Linked DNA regions of Homo sapiens: region 2 is linked to region 1. Evidence: fine-mapped expression QTL. A gene starts in region 1. The other region holds a variant in brackets. All regions are shown on one strand. Distances are from middle to middle.

The links. PIP is the estimated chance that this variant, and not a neighbour inherited with it, causes the effect.
Region 2: its variant is the best candidate, but not a certain one, in a credible set for the expression of LRRC61 in whole blood (TOPMed, PIP 0.64).

What each region holds. Positions count from the first base shown.
Region 1 is chr7:150,319,606-150,328,002 of GRCh38, forward strand. It overlaps LRRC61 (leucine rich repeat containing 61), which reads left to right and starts at 3,750. Exons shown (of 3, transcript NM_001142928.2): 1 at 3,750-3,955; 2 at 6,236-6,405. It overlaps ACTR3C (actin related protein 3C), which reads right to left and starts at 3,940. Exons shown (of 8, transcript NM_001164458.2): 1 at 3,864-3,940. RefSeq lists enhancers at 2,970-3,079, 3,130-3,189, 4,510-4,579 and a silencer at 3,800-4,119.
Region 2 is chr7:150,295,966-150,304,362 of GRCh38, forward strand. All of the region lies in intron 1 of ACTR3C (actin related protein 3C), which reads right to left. Among named protein-coding and RNA genes, the nearest start is that of LRRC61, 23 kb to the right of the region's middle. The variant T/C (reference allele first, on the strand shown) is at 4,972.

The DNA of each region.
Region 1 (8,397 bases):
TGACTTTGGGAAGATGGAGGCAAAGCACTTTGTCCATCCAATTACTTTGTATTTATTTATTTATTGTTTGTTTGCCCAGACTCCAGTCTTGACAATTACTCTGCATTTTAAAACACTGTTGGGGCTAACCCTACCAACCTCTCCCCTGACCCGAGACAGAGTTAGCAGCTAATGTAGCTACTTCCCACTTTCTGTCACCCCTGCAAACAGGGCAAACAGGGATGCTGTATCTGGAAGCTCTAGGGGCAGGAGCCAGTCCTATTTATCCTTTGTAAAACACCTAGCAAAACGAGATGATTTTAGGTCAACCCTCCTGAAACTTGGCTTGGCTGCAGTGACAAGTTTTGTACCTACAGGAAGATCAGCATTTCCTTCCGTTCTTCCTCTGCCAATCCATCCCTGACTGGTCTTTTGCCCTCTTTTGAGTAAGAAACTCCTTGTTTTAGAGTGTTTCTGGATTAACGCTGGAAAGGGACCAACTCTGAGCCCATAGTGTGGATCCCATGTAACAGTACTCTTACCAGAAAAGGGGTTTCACCCCAGACCCCAAGGGCAGGTTCTTGGATCTTGCACAGGAAAGAATTTAGGGTGAGTCGCAAAGTACAGTAAAGTTTAAATGGTTTATTAGAAACTAATCTATTAGAGTAGGGTATCCTCAGGAAGCAAGAGGAAGAACGCCCTACCTCAAATGTAATGCTTGTTTGTGTAGGATATTAGAGCTAAGAATAGTGTATTTTATTACAAAGGCTTGTGATCGGCTTGTGACAGACTATCTGTATTGTTATTCTCTTGTGCAATTAATTTCAGAAAGAATTTATGAGTGGACTATTATCTTTAGAGCAAAATATAGTTTAAATTAAGAATGCCTTTTTCCAGGCCAGGCGCCATGGCTCAAGCCTGTAATCCCAGCACTTCGGGAGGCTGAGGTGGGTGGATCACTTGAAGTCAGGAGTTTGAGACCAGGCTGGCCAATATGGCAAAACCCCGTCTCTACTAAAAATATAAAAATTAGCCAGGTAAAGTGGCGCACATCTGTAATTCCAGCTACTTCGAAGGCTGAAGCAGGAGAATCACTTGAACCCGGGAGGCAGAGGTTGCAGTGAGCCGAGATGGTGGCATTGCACTCCAGCCTGGGCAACAGAGTGAGACTCCATCTCCAAAACAAAAACAAAAACAAGAATGCCTTTTTCCATTAACTTGTTTCCTCAACAATAAACATCTTGTGATCAAGAGTGCTGACTTCCTGGGAATGCAACCCAGCAGGTCTTGCCTTCCCCAGCCTTTATTTAGGATAGTGTCACTCTAGTTAGGACACCTCTGACAATACAACTCAAATCATTGGTAGCTCATGAAAAGAACTCACTCTTTGACTAAACTTGAGTCAGGCTCCTCTCAGTCCTCGTTTTGACTAGGCCCTGACCCTGGGCTGGTCCTTAACTCACTTAGTTCAGTTTTAGCAAGAATCCTGCTGAGTCAGTTCAGCAAAAATCCCCTACCCTTGGTATCTGATCACCTCGGCTTGTGTTCAGCAAAAATCTCCCTAACCTTTATGTGTCCTCTTAGTAATTTTCCATCTGCTGACTTCCACCCTGTTGCTTAACTATAAATCTCCACCTGTCCTTGTATTTGATGTTAAGCCTGATTTTTTTGCCCCTATTGCATAATCCCTATTGCAGCTGTTCTTGAATAAAGTCTCTCACCTTAACAATTGTTTGAATAATTTTTCTTTTAGTGCCATTTCCTACTGTAACATGCTGTGTGAGTCTCAATTTTCTGATCCATATAATGGAGAAACTAATACTTCCATCTCCGAGGCATGGAGATCAACTGAAATTAAAAATAACTTGCATATGGCTGGGCAGGGTGGCACACACCTGCAATCCCAGCACTTTGGGAGGCCAAGGCGGGCAGATCACTTGAAGTCAGGAGTTTGAGACCACCCTGGCCAATATGGCGAAACCCCGTCTCTACTAAAAATACAAAAATTAGCCAGGTGTGGTGGTTCACGCCTGTAGTCTTAGCTACTTGGGAGACTGAGGCAGGAGAATCGCTTGAACTCAGGAGGTGGAGGTTGCAGTGAGCTGAGATCACACCACTGCACTCCAGCCTGGGCAAGAGAGTGAGACTCCATCTCAAAAAAATAAAAATAAAAATAAAAAACTTGGATAAAGTGTAAAGATAAAAATCACTATTCTTGGGCAGGGGTCCCAGCTGTAGCCCAAGCTGGAGAACTAGACTGGCTTGGCATTAATTTGCTTGGGGCAGGAGAAGGGTCATCTGAAAGATATGGGAAAAGCTGAGGTTGCCCCTGGGAAGACTAGGGAAGCCTGCCCCCGGGCCAGCCCCTTGAATATGTCCAACTGAGGAGGTGGAAAGAAGTTCAAGGTAGCCAGGGAGACAAAAGTTGTTCACTTTGGTGCACATGTGGAACCAACATGGGACAAACAGGCATTTTGTGCTCGTCCAGGGAACATGACTTCTTCGGCTCCCACACAATTTGTAGCTGCAGGAGTGGCAGAGCACCAGAGTGGATGCAGGCCCAGATGTTCTCTGGGTTAGGTGTTAAGGACTTGTGGGAGTCATCAGGCAGCAGGCATTTGCCCCAGTGTCAGAGGTGTTTAAGCCAGAATTACTCCATCTTGAATAAGGGCTGGGTAAAATGAGGCTGCATTCATAGGAGGTTAGGCATTCTAAGTCACAGGATGAGACAGAAGGTTGGCACAAGATACAGGTCATACAGACCTTGCTGATAAAACAGGTTGCAGTAAAGAAGCTGGCTAAACGCCACCAAAACCAATATGGCAATGGGAGGGACCTCTGGTGGTCCTCACTGCTCATTATGCACTAATTATAATGCATTAGCATGCTAAAAGACACTCCCACCAGCAAGCACCATGACAGTTTACAGACGCCATGACACCATCATGAAATACTCTATATGGTCTAAAAAGGGGAGGAAGCCTCAGTTCCGGGAACTGCCCACCCCTTTCTCTGAAACTCATGAATAATTCAACCCTTGTTTAGCATATAATCAAGAAATAACCAAAAAATGGGTAACCAGTAGCCCTGGAGCTGCTCTGCCTATGGAGTAGCCATCCTTTTACTTCTTTGCTTTCTTAATAAACTTGTTTTCACTTTACTCTATGGGCTTGCCCTGAATTCTTTCTTGCATGAGATCCAAGAACCCTCTCTTAGGGCCTGGATCGGGACCCCTTTCTGATAACACCAGGAGACACCCTGGGTGGATTTCCTGAACCGACCGATAGATGAGCCTTCCACGCGGGAGACCTGGATCCTTATCGTCTTTGTGGCCCCTTCCATCTGCACGTGCGGACGAGGTCCGGGTCGCACTCGGGCGGTCAGCCTGGCACGCACAGCGCCGGCGTGCAGGGGGCCTTGGGTGCCACCGAGTCCGGGAGGAAATCTAGGCCGCCATCCGTCCGGAGACTGGCACCTGTGACCACCACCCAACATGTATTGAACAAGGGCTTGGAGGTCCTTTCTCTAAGGCCGCACCGATAAACGATTACCGACTGTTGACCTCACGGCCCCTTCGCTTCCGGCCGCACCGCCTCGCTGCCCACGCCTGCGCACTCAGGCACCGCAGGTAGGAGGAACGTACCAACTGCGAGGCGGGGGGTGCGCGCGAAGACCCCCGCAGGCTGCGCTTCCGGAAGTAACCCCTGGCGCATCCCGGAATCCAGAGCGCCCACTACGGCCTTTGGCCAGGCCCCCTGGGCGCGTTCCGGGAGCTCAGGCCTGCGGCGCTGGGAGAAGCACGCTGGCCAACAAGTTGGGTGGTGGGCACGCGGCCCAGGGGTCAGGGGCCGCCAGGCGGCGGGCGGCGGGGCTGCGGCTCTTACCTGCCGAGGAGGCGCCGGCTCTGCGGTGCGGAGTTGCGCCGGACTTCCCAGCTTGGCCAGTGGCTCCGCAGGCTGCCGGCTCCACCCCTCAGGTAAGCGGGGACTGGGCCGCCGAGGTTCAGGGAAGGGGGCGGCTGTCGGGGCCCGTGCCGGCCCCGGGGGGCCACCTGCTGGGCCAGCGGTGCCCTCGCGCCGAAACACACTGGGAGAGGCCAGAATCTTCCGGAACAGCCAGCCCTTACCCATCTCTCCCTCTGTGCCGAGAACTGCCCTGAAATACTGTGGTATTAATTAACTCGTTTAACACTAACAATCTCATGAGGCGGGTGCTGTTACTATTCCCGTAATGTAGACGAGGAAACCGAGGCGTGTGCTGGAGCAGGATCACGGCCGTGCTCAGAGACGGGCTCTGGATGCCATGCTCTGACTCCATTGTTAGCCCTAAGCTTCCAGAAAGTAGCAGAGTGCTGCCGTGTCGTTTGTAACAGATCTCACTTTGTGTCATTTTTTTTGCACAGTATGAAACCTAATGATGCATGATTATTATTTAAAACATCTTGCTTAGACTTTATAAGTAGTCAAATTTGCGTGTGGGACAAAACCCCAAAACATGCAATGGCTTGCTCTCCTCTTTTCCTTTCACACGTTCATCTCCTCCTATCCCTTTCTCTCACCACCTTTCAATCTTCTCACAGATGTTGTGGAGGAAGATGAGACTTGAGGGCCCAGCAGGTGCTTAAAATCCCCTGCCTGGTGGGGGTGGAGTAGACACTCTGTCCCCCTGCAGTGCTGGAGTTGAGAGCAGAGGGGCTGGAGAGGGACTGGGCGGAGTGAGAAAGGCCTGGCATAATCATGGAATGCCCAGGGTGGGGTTCTACTTCTCTTGCAGGCACAAGAGAAGTAGAAGAGTGGCCGCTTTCCTTCTGGGCACGCACTTGGGAAAAGGCTTGGTGAGAGCAGCGAGAAGAATAGGTCTAATTTCTTGAGCCAGTGTGCGGAGGTGCTTCCCAGCCCAGGCTAAGCCAGATCACTCAGCCAGCCGCTGGCTGCCTTTACAGATGTACGGCTCCCCGTGAGCAATCAACATGCCTGGCTCTCAGGCATAAGCTGCCTCACTTCCCTTCTGCACAGCACTCCAGGACTTGCCTGCTACCAGACCCATCCTACTTTCTCTGTCAGGAAAAATGAGAGTTCTTCCTGGTCTCTTGAGGCCAATCCCTTCCACCGCCTGTGCCCTGGATCCCTTTCTCCAGGAAGCTTCTCTTCCCTGTGTAGTTAGCCTCCCCGCTCTTCCCAGGTCACCTTCTCTCTGTTTAGGGACAGAGCCAAGCCTTTTCCCTCCCATCCCCACCTCCAGCATTCCCGGTTCCTGCTTCTCCCCCACTTCCTGCTGTACCGCCCACTGAAGGGACCTTTGACCCCGCTGACCACTGCTTTTGGAAAGTCTTTTCTTGGTTTCCCTAACTTCACTTTACTTTGGTTTTTCCTTGTCTCTCCCCTCTGCCTCTCAGTCACCTTTGAGATCTGCTCATCCTCTCACCTCCCTGTATTGTCAGCATTACCTGGGCAGCCCCCTCTGGTGTTTTCCTTCAGTTTCTCTAGAAACTTGCCTGAAGATTTGCCCCAAAATAGCCCACATGGACCTGTATGAGGAAAGAGGCTCACTGTGGAGGCGCTCTCCATCATTCCTCCTCTTCCACTTGAGGCTTAGGCATGGGCCACCTCCTGAACAGCTCTCCCCACAGTCTCCTCCATGCATTGTGCCATCACCCCGCCCTGCCGTCACCCCGGCCTGGCCCGCTTTCCCTTTTGCCTCCCAGGGATGTGCCTGCTTCCCATGTGGCCTGGCTAGGGCGCTTTCCTGACTGCTGCCCACATGATCGACTATGGGCAGGCGTGCAGCCCAAAAGGCCGTGCTTCAGCTTAGAAGCCCTTGGAATCTTGTCTTGTTGTGGTTGTAGGCCTCCAATGTGTTGTCAGCTGTGGTGATGTGTGTCACAAGTAACTTCTTTTTTTTGAGACAGGGTCTGGCTCTGTTGCTCAGGCTGGAATGCAGTGGTGCAATCACGGCTCACTGCAATCTCCACTTCCCTGCTCAAGCCATCTTCCTGCCTCAGACTGCCAAGAAGCTGGGACCACAGGCACAGGCCATCACAGCTGGCTGATTTTTTTGTATTTTTTTTGTAAAGACAAGGTTTCGCCATCTTGCCCAAGCTGGTCTCAACCCCCTGAGTTCAAAGCAGTCCACCCACCTTGGCTTCCCAAAGTGCTAGGATTACAGGCGTGAGCCACCACACCTGGCCACAAGTAACTTCTTAGTTATAAAGTACTGAAATTTATCAATGACTTTCTTTTTAAAATTTACGTTTTAGATTCATTTGGATTCAAGGTTGGCTCTCAACAGTGCCAGCTGCACTGTCATCCTAAAGTACTTCTGTGGAAGAGAACATGGTGGTGTCACTGTTGTACCAGTGATGACACAAAATCCCAGATCTACCTGACGGGCCTGCGAGGGTTGAAGATTGTGAAGCAATAGCCTAAGGTAAACAACACCTTGCAAGACGGGTCTAAGCTCTTCAGTGTAATAGACCCTGTTTCTCAGTAGGTCAGCCCGGGGGCCCCCCAGGGATCCCTCCCCGCCTCATAGCACCATACCCCACTTTCCCCCTGGTCTAATGATGAGCCCATTTCTAGGTTGTCGTCTCATCCTGAGCCCCAAGTGCCAGCCAGGCAGCTACTCTCCTCTGTTCATATCTTGAAGGCAGAGTGCTGGCTCATAGTAGACATTTGATGAATTTCTGTTAAATGATTGAGTGAATCAAGAGTATCTGCAGAGTATAGCATTTATGATGAGACAAAGCTAATTGGGAAACAGAACAAGATTGGTGTCCTGGGGTAACTGGGTAGGTCTTAAGATGAAGATTTTGGGGTGTGCTGGGTGCAGTGGCTCACACCTGTAATCCCAATACTTTGGGAGGCTGAGGCAGGGGGATTGCTTGATCCCAGGAGTTCAAGACCAGCTTGGGCAACATGGTGAAATCCCGTCTCTACAGAAAACACAAAAATTAGCTGGGTGTGGTGGTGCACATCTGAAGTCCCAGCTACTTGGGAGGCTGAGTTTGGGAGGATTACTTGAGCCCAGGAGGCAGAGGTTGCAACAAGGTAGATCATGCCACTGTACTCCAGCCTGGGTGACAGAGCAAGACCCAGTCTGAAAAAAAAAAAAAAAAAATACTTTGGAGGGTGACCCCGTTCTGCAGATGGCCTCTGGAGGCCTGGATGTTCACACTCTGGGGTTGCAGTTTCCTCAATCATGAAGTGAGAGTTAAGTCCCCTCCAGTGTGACATCCAAGAGCAGTTGTGGGCCCAGGACAGCAGCCTGTGTTTCCTTTGCAGCTTTACCTAGCCCCTACACAAGCGCCACCTTGCAGTAGGCCTTCAGTTCTTGGATTTATTGGTGGCTGAAAGTTCTTGCGAGATGGACTTGAAGTTGTTGCCACTTAACCCTTCTGAGGTTCTTCTGGCTGGGAGGAGCTCCTCTTTCTGGCCAGAGTCTTGCTTGAGCCTTCTTAGCCATCTCGTCACCTGTTATAGGCAGCCCTGCCATCTCTGGTGACCCTTTTTAAACATTACCCTGGTGAGTAATGTTTAGCATCACTCATTGTCAGATCTTTTTTATCTTTTTTTTTTTTTGAGTTTCAGTACCAGTAAGTCTTTATGTATTCATTATATCTTTCCAGGGAAAGGAGAAGGGAAGTGAAAAGGGTCAGCATGTGTGTTGCAAAGTGATTAGAAAATGGGAAAGGAAGTACCTGGTACAGAAAAATCAGCCATCCAATAGATGCACCCCAGAGATGGAGTAACCAAAGCCCAAGGGGCCCTGGTCTCCTGCAGTTCAGGACTGAGGGGCAGGGATCAGGGAAGGTACAAGCCTTTCTACCCTCCCTCCCTGCCCCTAAATTCAAGATTTCACATAAAGCTTTGGTTTCTAGCAGTAAACATGGGGTTACATTCATCTGTCTCCTTTTAAACAATCTTGTAGCCACTTTGACATAAGTTCTTGCACCGGGCCGGGCGTGGTGACTCACACCTGTAATCCCAGCACTTTAGGAGGTCAAGGAAGGAAGATTGCTTGAGCCCAGGAGTTGGAGTCCAGCCTGGGCAACATAGTGAGACCTTGTCTCTACAAAAAAATTAAAAGAATTAGTCAGGTGTGTTGGTGTACACCTGTAGTTCCAGCTACTTGGGAGCTGAGGTGGGAGGATCGCTTAAGCCTGGGAGGTTGAGGCTGCAGTGAGCCAAGATTGTACCACTCCACTACAGTCTGGGCGACAGAGCAAGACCTTGTCTCAAAAAAAAAAAAAAAAAGTTTCTTGCACTTGCGTAAAAGTTCCTAAGTGACTTAGATATATACTCATATTCCTTTGCCTGGTCTCCTGACCCCACTTCTACGTGGAAGGCCCCCGGTTGCTTCTCCCTTCTTTGAGATTACAGATTAAGTAGGTTTGATCCATCCCAATAAAGCAGTGTCTTA
Region 2 (8,397 bases), 24 kb before region 1:
GGCACAAAGAAGCCAGCCAACAGTGATATAAAAACACTCAAAGAGAAAGAAAAGGGACAGAGAAAAGAGGAAAAACAAATGGCAGACAAAAACACATATCCAGGGGCAGGCGTGGTAGCTCACGCCCATCATCCTAGCACTTTAGGAGGCTGAGGAGGGAGGATCACTTGAGTCCAGGAGTTTGAGACCAGCCTGGGCAATATTGGGAGACCCCACCTCTATGAAAAAATTTAAAAGTCAGCCAAGTGTGGTGGCACATGCCTGTGATCCCAGCTACTCGGGGGCTGAGGTAGGACCACTTGAGCCTCGGAGGTGAAGACTACATGAACCAAGATTGTGCCACTGCACTCCAACCTGGGTGACAGAGCAAGATCCTGTCTCCAAAAGACCGAAAAAAAAAAATATCTGGAAAAATATTGAAACAAAGCAGATAAAAATTCCCAAGAATTTCCAAAGACATTTCCAAGAATCCAAGTATCTATTTTAAAACAATAACCATCATCAAACAGGAGGAAATGACAGACAACAGAAACAGAAAAAGAATAAATAAACTTGATTTTTCTCATTCAACAATATACTATGAACATTTTTCCTTGTCAACAAATATGGGTCTATATCTCGTATTTAAAACTGAAAAAATAAAAAGTCTCTGGACCTTTGGGCAAAACGTATACATTACCCTTTATTATGAATGAACTGTGCTCCCCCTACCTCCAGTTCATACATTAAAGCCCTAACTCCCAGTGTACTATAATTGGAAATAGGGCCTTTCAAGAGGTCATCACGGTTACCTGAGGTCATAGGGGTGGGGCCCTAATTTGACAGGACTGGAGGAAGGTCTTCTAAGAAAAGGAAGAGACACCAGAAATCAGTCTCTCTCTCCTATTCTCTCCCCACTCTACGCTCACACAGGGGAAAGGCATGTGAGGACCCAGCAGGAAAGGTGACCACATACAAGCCAGGAAGAGGGCTGCGCCAGGAGCCAACCCCGACGGCACCTCGACCTTGGACTTCTAACCTCCAGAACTGTGAGAAAACAACGAACTGTCTGCTGTTTAAGCCACCCAACCTGTGGTATAAACAAAATTACAGCAGCCGAGTAGACTAATACACCCCTACGACAGGGAAAGTACAATCAGCCTCAGCCTTCAACACGGCTACATTTAACACTAGGACACATAGGGCCACACTTAAGAGTCTTCAAGGGAAGAAGGTACGACCCAAGAATTCTATATCTGGCCACAGTGTCAATCAAGTATGTTACAAAATCAAAATATCTAATATTTGAGATGATGGATATGCTAATTACCCTGATCTGATAACCACACATTATATGTATCAAAACTTCACTCTGTACCCCATAAATATGCACATTATGTGTCAATTTAAAAAAAAAACAATAAAATAAAATACTAAGGAGAAAAAATATATATCCTTAAACATACAAGAACTTGGAAAATTTCATTCCCATGAGCCAAAATGTATGGGTTCATGAACTATTAGAGGATAAACTTTATCCACTCAAGAAGAATGCAGAAAGTCCAGCAAAAGACTTACAGTGAGCAATGAAGCCATTTAAGACGTAGGAATAAAGACTTTTCTTTGGCCGGGCACGGTGGCTCATGCCTGTAATCCCAGCACTTTGGGAGGCCGAGGCGGGCGGATCACCTGAGGTCAGGAGTTTGAGACCAGCCTGGCCAACATGGGGAAACCCCATCTCTACTAAAAATACAAAAATTAGCCAGGCATGGTGGTGTGCACCTGTAGTCCCAGCTACTTGGGTGGTTGAGGCAGGAGAATTGCTTGAACGTGGGAGGCGGAGGTTGCAGTGAGCTGAGATCACACCACTGCATTCCAGCCTGGGCGATGGAGTGAGACTCCGTCTCAAAAAAAAAAAAAAAAAAAAAGACTTTTATTTTCTGGGAATTAAGAACAGAATGTAAATGTTATAAATTTTAATGGAAAAAAATGATATCAAGTTGAGCAGTGCACAAGGAAAGAAGGAGAGAGTGTAAAGACACTTGCCTCTTACAGTGAAATCAAAAGATATTATTTAAAACTGATAAAGTATCAGAGGCATTAGTAAACATAAAGTTATAAATGTTAACACTGGAATAAGTTTAGTAACATCATTAATCAAAAGCAGGTGGTGGAGAGAAGGAAGGGGAGGCAAGAACATGTGGCAATACCAACCTGGTCACTGATTACAGCAGGAAGGAGCTAGTTACCCCTAAACAAATACAGGGTAAACATATCAAATTATACTAAAATATGCAAACATGAGTCCTTTTAATCATTACCAAGAACACACACCCAATACAAAGCAAAGAGAAAAATAAGTCTTCAGTTAAAAAATACTAATACATAAATAAAGTACATTAAAAACATGAAGCATAACATTTTAAAAAAATAGTTAAATTAAGACCAAACATATCTGTCACACAGTAGCATGCCATACCAGTCCGATTAAGAGATGTGAAGTCAAACTGACTGGGATCAAATCCCAGCCTTCCACTTTACTAGGCTTGGTAAGCTATTTCCTCTCTCCCTGAGTCTCCTCATGGGTAAAGTGCAGGTAATTAGTACCCCACTCAGAGAGTTGGAAAGATTAAAGGCAGTCTAAATAATGTGCTTAGAGCAGTACTGGATACACAGATGTGTTCAATGGAAGTGAGTTGCTATTACTAAAATTATCAGCAAATACAAATGGGAAATTCAACTACTAAAAGTCTCTCAGTTAAAAACAAAAACAAAATCAAATTACATTCTGAGGTTAAGAGACCCAACTAAAACAAAGTAGCTTGGAAAGGTAAAAAGTCAACATTGTCTGTATCAGAAGATCAGAAACAACCTAAATACCCATCACTAAACACTTTGGAACAATTTAAAAAAATGAACTCTATGAAGAAACAATCTCTATGATGAATTGTTAAGTGAAAAAGAGAAAGGTGTCTCCATTCCGTATACATTCTTAAATATCCTTCTGCTTCAACAATTTGTAATGAAAACTTTTTTTTTTTTTTTTTTTTTTTTGAGACAGAGTCTCACTCTGTCAACCAGGCTCAAGTGCAGTAGCCCAATCTCGGATCTCTGGGAGACTCCACCTCCCAGAATTCAAGCAATTCTCCTGCCTCTGCCTCCAGAGTAGCTGGGATTACAGGCACATGCCGTCACGCTCAGTTAAGTTTTGTATTTTTAGTAGAGACAGGGTTTCACGATGTTGGCCAGGCTGGTCTCGAGCTCCTGACCTCAAGTGATCCACCACTTCGGCCTCCCAAAGGCTGGGATTACAAGGCGTGAGCCACCATGCCAGGCCAAAAACTATTTTTAAAAAACAAGGTGTGGTAGCCGGGTGTGTGCCTGTAGTCCCAGCTACTCAGGAGGCTGAGGCAGGAGGATCACTCCAGCCCAGGAGGTCGAGGCTGTCTGTAGTGGCTGTATGACTGCACCTGTGAATAGCCACTGCACTCCAGCTTGGACAACATAGAGACCCCCTCTCAAAAAAAAAAAAAAAAAAAAAAAAAAAAAACAAAAAACAGGCTGGGTGGTGTGGCTCACACCTGTAATCCCAGCACATTGGGAGGCAGGGGCAGGTGGATCACCTGAGGTCAGGAGTTCAAGACCAGCCTGGCCAACATGGGGAAACCCCATCTCTGCTAAAAATACAAAAATTAGCTGGGCGTGGTGGTGCACGCCTGTAATCCCAGCCAGTCGGGTGGCTGAGGCAGCAGAATTGCTTAAACCCGGGAGGCAGAGGTTGCAGTGAGCTGAGGTGGTGCCACTGTACTCCAGCCTGGGCAACAAGAGTTAACTCCATCTCAAAAACAAAAAACAAGGTCGGGGGAGAGGGGAAATAATGGGGACTCGTTCAATGAGTACGGAGTTTCAGTTTTGCAAGATGGAAAAGTTCTAGAATCTCTTACACAACAGTGTGAATATAGTTAACATTACAGAATTGTACAGTTAAAAATGGCTAATAGGGCACAAATAGTATTAGGGTTTTTTTTTACAATTTAAACCAAAAAAAAAAGTTTAATTCAAAAATCCAAGGTGTGCAACAGTATGCATATTGTGTTACCATTTGTGTAAAATAAAACTGTGTGCTAGCCGGGCGCAATGGCTCACACCTATAATGCCAACACTTTAGGAGGCTGAGGTGGGCGGATCATGAGCTCAGGAGTTTGAGACCAGCCTGACCAACATAGTGAAACCCCGTCTCTACTAAAAATACAAAAATTAGCCAGGCTTGGTGGCACATACCTGTAGTCCTAGCTACTCAGGAGGCTTGAGGCAGGGGAATTGCTTGAACCCGGGAGGCGGAGGTTGCGGTGAGCTGAGATCGTGCCACTGCACTCCAGCCTGGGCTACAGAGCAAGACTCCATCTCAAAAAAAACAACAACAAAAAAAGAAAGAACAAAAACAAGTGTGTGCTAACCCATATGCCTACACACAATCACCCCTGGAACATGAACAATCAGCTGGCTAAGAACGGGTAAGGGCGGCTTCCTCTAGGCAGGAAAGAGGCGAGGGGGGCACGCTCTCTAGAAATCTTCCAGCACCTTTTCAGTTCTGCACTGTGTGTGCATCACTTCTTCAAACAACAAGCAAGCAAATCTACCTACCAACTAGCCTGGCACTTTAAACTCTGGCACAGCAGCTGGTGAAAAGTTCAAACACACTGCCCCAAGTAAGTTTTAGTCACTGTAATTAGAATCCATCAATTCCTGGATGGGAGAGAGGAAGCCATCTCAAAATGTGGAAGGGAGAATAATGAAGTCATACTCAAACACAGGCTGCAAATAGGGAACCTAAAAAGCACTCCACAACATGGTATTTATTTCAATGCGCCTACTCGGGCTGAGGAGATTAAATCTGCTAATAGCAGTGAAGTGCCCAGAACACAGTTAGAAGTATAAATGTTAGCGATTACTACTTTAGATTTCCTTCATTTAAAGCACGTGAGTAAGAGA[T/C]GCAGATTCCAATAGTAGTGTGTACAATCTCTCTCTTAAGCTACCTCCTATCGATCTGAAAAGCGGGCCTAATAACATCACCTATCTCAGAGGGTTGTTGGTGGCATTAAAAATGAGTTAATACTTATAAACACTTAGAATGGGGCTGGGCACATAGAAGTACTCAATAAACAGCCATAATAGCCAATATTGTATCTCATTCCAGAAGAAATAACATATTAACTGAAGAAACCTATGTTTGTCATCTTGAATAGGAACCCAAGCATAATTATAAGTGAAATAAACAAAATATTTAAACTGAGTAGAGGTGGGGAAGTATCAGGAGAGAAAGGTTAAGAAGGTATGAAGATTTCTGAGTACAGCTGGGGAAGGTTTCTTGCCTCCCAGCAAAGAGATGCCTATTTAACCTGAAGCAAAAACAGACCTGTAGGAAGACATCACCAACAAGAATCAGATTAACCCTGGCTCCCTGCATTCTCTCTGGGTCTAAGTTCAGTGTGAAATGATGATCCAAATAAATCCCAGATGGATGAAGATTAAATACAAACATCAAAGGAAAATGGGTTTTACCAACATACAAATTTAAAGTTATGGATGTCCAAATGAAATAACCAAAAGAGAAAGGCAAAAAATTAACTGAGTAAAACTAACCTGCTGCAAATATAACAACAAAAGAAGCTTTCTATCTTAATTATATGAAAGCTTCCAGAGAATAAGCAGAATGTGGTATCTATGTACAATGGAATATTATTCAGCCTTAAAAAGAAAGGAATCCTGGCACATGCTTCAACATGGATGAAGCATGAAGACGCTAAGTGAAGTAAGCTGGTCACAAAAGGACAAATACTATATGATTCCATTTATATGAGGGCCCTAGAGTCATCAAATGTATAGAGACAGAAAGTAAAATGGGCATTCCAGGGGCAGGTAAAGGAGTAAAGAGAATTCGTGTTCAATGGGGACAGAGTTTTAGTTTGGGAAGATGAAAAGGCTTCTGGAGACAGACGGTGGCAATGGTTTGTGAATGTGCCTAATGCCACCAAGCTGTACATTCAAAAATGGTTCAAATGATAAATTCTGTTATGTGTATTTTAGAATAAAAAAAAGTTAAGTAAAAACAAAGTTCATAGAAATCACAGCAACAAGAAAAGCAATAAAACAACGATACGTAAAAGAGCACAGGGCATGAACAGACAGCTCGCAAAAGAGGAAATACAACTAACTAATGTGGAAAAACGTATAAGGTCAAAGTTATCAAAAATGCAAATGTAAAGCATATGGCAAATTTTAATCCATTAAATGATCAAAAATAATATTAATGCTGACAAGAGTACAAAGAAAGCAAGCCTCTTGCGCGGTGCTGACGGCAGTCTGAAATGGCACACTGTGCAGAGACTAATAAAATTACTAACACTGCTGAACTCCATAATCAAACACTGCTAGTTCTTTTTAAGTAAAAAAGACTCGAAATACAGGAAAAACTGTATGCACAAAGATTACATTATTTCTTATAAAACCAAGAAAATGACTAAAAATAGTGGAACTGCTAAGCAGGAAATACCTACTAGACAGATTATCATATAGCTGTTAAAATAAGGGTTATGAAAACTGTAAGGAAATGAGGAGTATAATATTGGGTGTAAAATCATTTTAAAAATGGGTAAAAAGATTAAATGAAAATATACTAAATGTCAACAGTACCTATGTTAATGTGATAAGACTATAAAAATCCCACAGATATCTTCCAAATTTTCTATACCACACTTACAATTCTACTGTAGTGAAGGGGGAAATGATCTCTATGTGAAGTGTTAAACTCCGAGTTATGGCTGTGGGGCAAGATCACACAAACTCCTCATCTAACTTCCCAATTTCCTAATGTATTTTATCCACAGACAGACTTACGGCAGCAAGATGGCAATGCCAAGCAGGAGACGCAGCACATCTTGCCACAGCTTCCTCCTGGCCAGAGGCTCCCTAACATGGGTGACACTCTCCACATAGGTAAAATCCAGCCAGAGTTGTGAAAGCAGCTGAATCTCTCCCTTGCTACTGTCTTCATGCCTTTGAGTGACACCACTATGACAGGCATTGAGTTGCTCTTACCAACACTGCAAGTTTGTGACTGACAGACCACTGATCTATGATGGGAAATGGCAACAGGCCCAGAAAAAAGCATTTCCCAGACTTCCTTGTGGACAGGGATGACTAAGTAAGTTCAGGCCAGTAAGACACAAAAGCTGGAGAATGGTTGCCAGGAAAGCTCCTTACAAAGCTGAGGTAGACTCAAGTCGTAGACTTGCCTCCTGCCCTTAACACCCTCCTCCTTCCTGGAACACAGAGGTGATAGCTGGAGGTGCAGTAATCAACTTGTGATCATGAGGCATCCTTAGAATGAAAGCCATATATTCAAGACACTAGAGTAGAGAGATTGTTAGCCACACCAGAGAGCTGCCATATCAGCACTGGACTCTACTGCAAATTTATTTAAGAAAAATAAAGCCTTAACTTTTTTAAACTACTGCTTTTATACTTCTATTACTTGCTGCCAAAAACATTTCACTGTCTTTGAAGAATTAAAATCTATGTATTTCCATTTAAAGGAACATTTACAATATAATGATGTTCTCCTGGTTCTTGAATCAAAATCGATGTTATTCAGGCCACATCCTTATGGGTTCTGAGGACCACAATCACAAACCCTCCGTCTTCCTCAACCTCCCATTTCATCTCTATCCACCACTATTGATGTTATAATTATTCCTTTAGGAGACAAATGTATTATTCTCAAACTATTATTTATAACAAGATCTAAATTGGAGATGTCCAGTTATTCTGGGGTTTTTTCTCTCTTTAAGACTAGTCAAGTGCAGCAGTGAGAAGAAGAGAAAGAGAATAATCTGGTTTTTTAAATATAGAAGCATATGATCAAAGCATCAATGAATGCAAGCTACACAAACATTTTTATTCATAACAATGGTAAAATTATCACCTGGTATTGATTTAAAAGTGAATAATGACTATCATAAAACCAACCCATATTTCTGGATAAAGATAGAAAATTGAACACATGTATCTAATATTACTCCACCTCCATGCCCCTCTAAAACTACAGTAAAGAAACATTTTTAAAAATACAAATCCTCAAGGAAGCGAGAATAGGAGAGGAGGCGACAATATACTGGAAGCTGGAAAGTACGTGCAGGAGGTGACTTAGCAAATCCAAGAAAGCTGACCTCTACACTGGCTAGGTCTACACTGGCTAGGTCTACACTGGTTAGTGAAGTGCACAAGGCAGGTCTAACCATTCTCAAGAATTCAGGAAGGAAACTAGGACATAACGCAATTGTGATTCAGATGTAGGGCACTGCTATGGCTAGCATTTTTTTATTTCACCAGGTTCATGAGGAAAATGATTTCACAGAG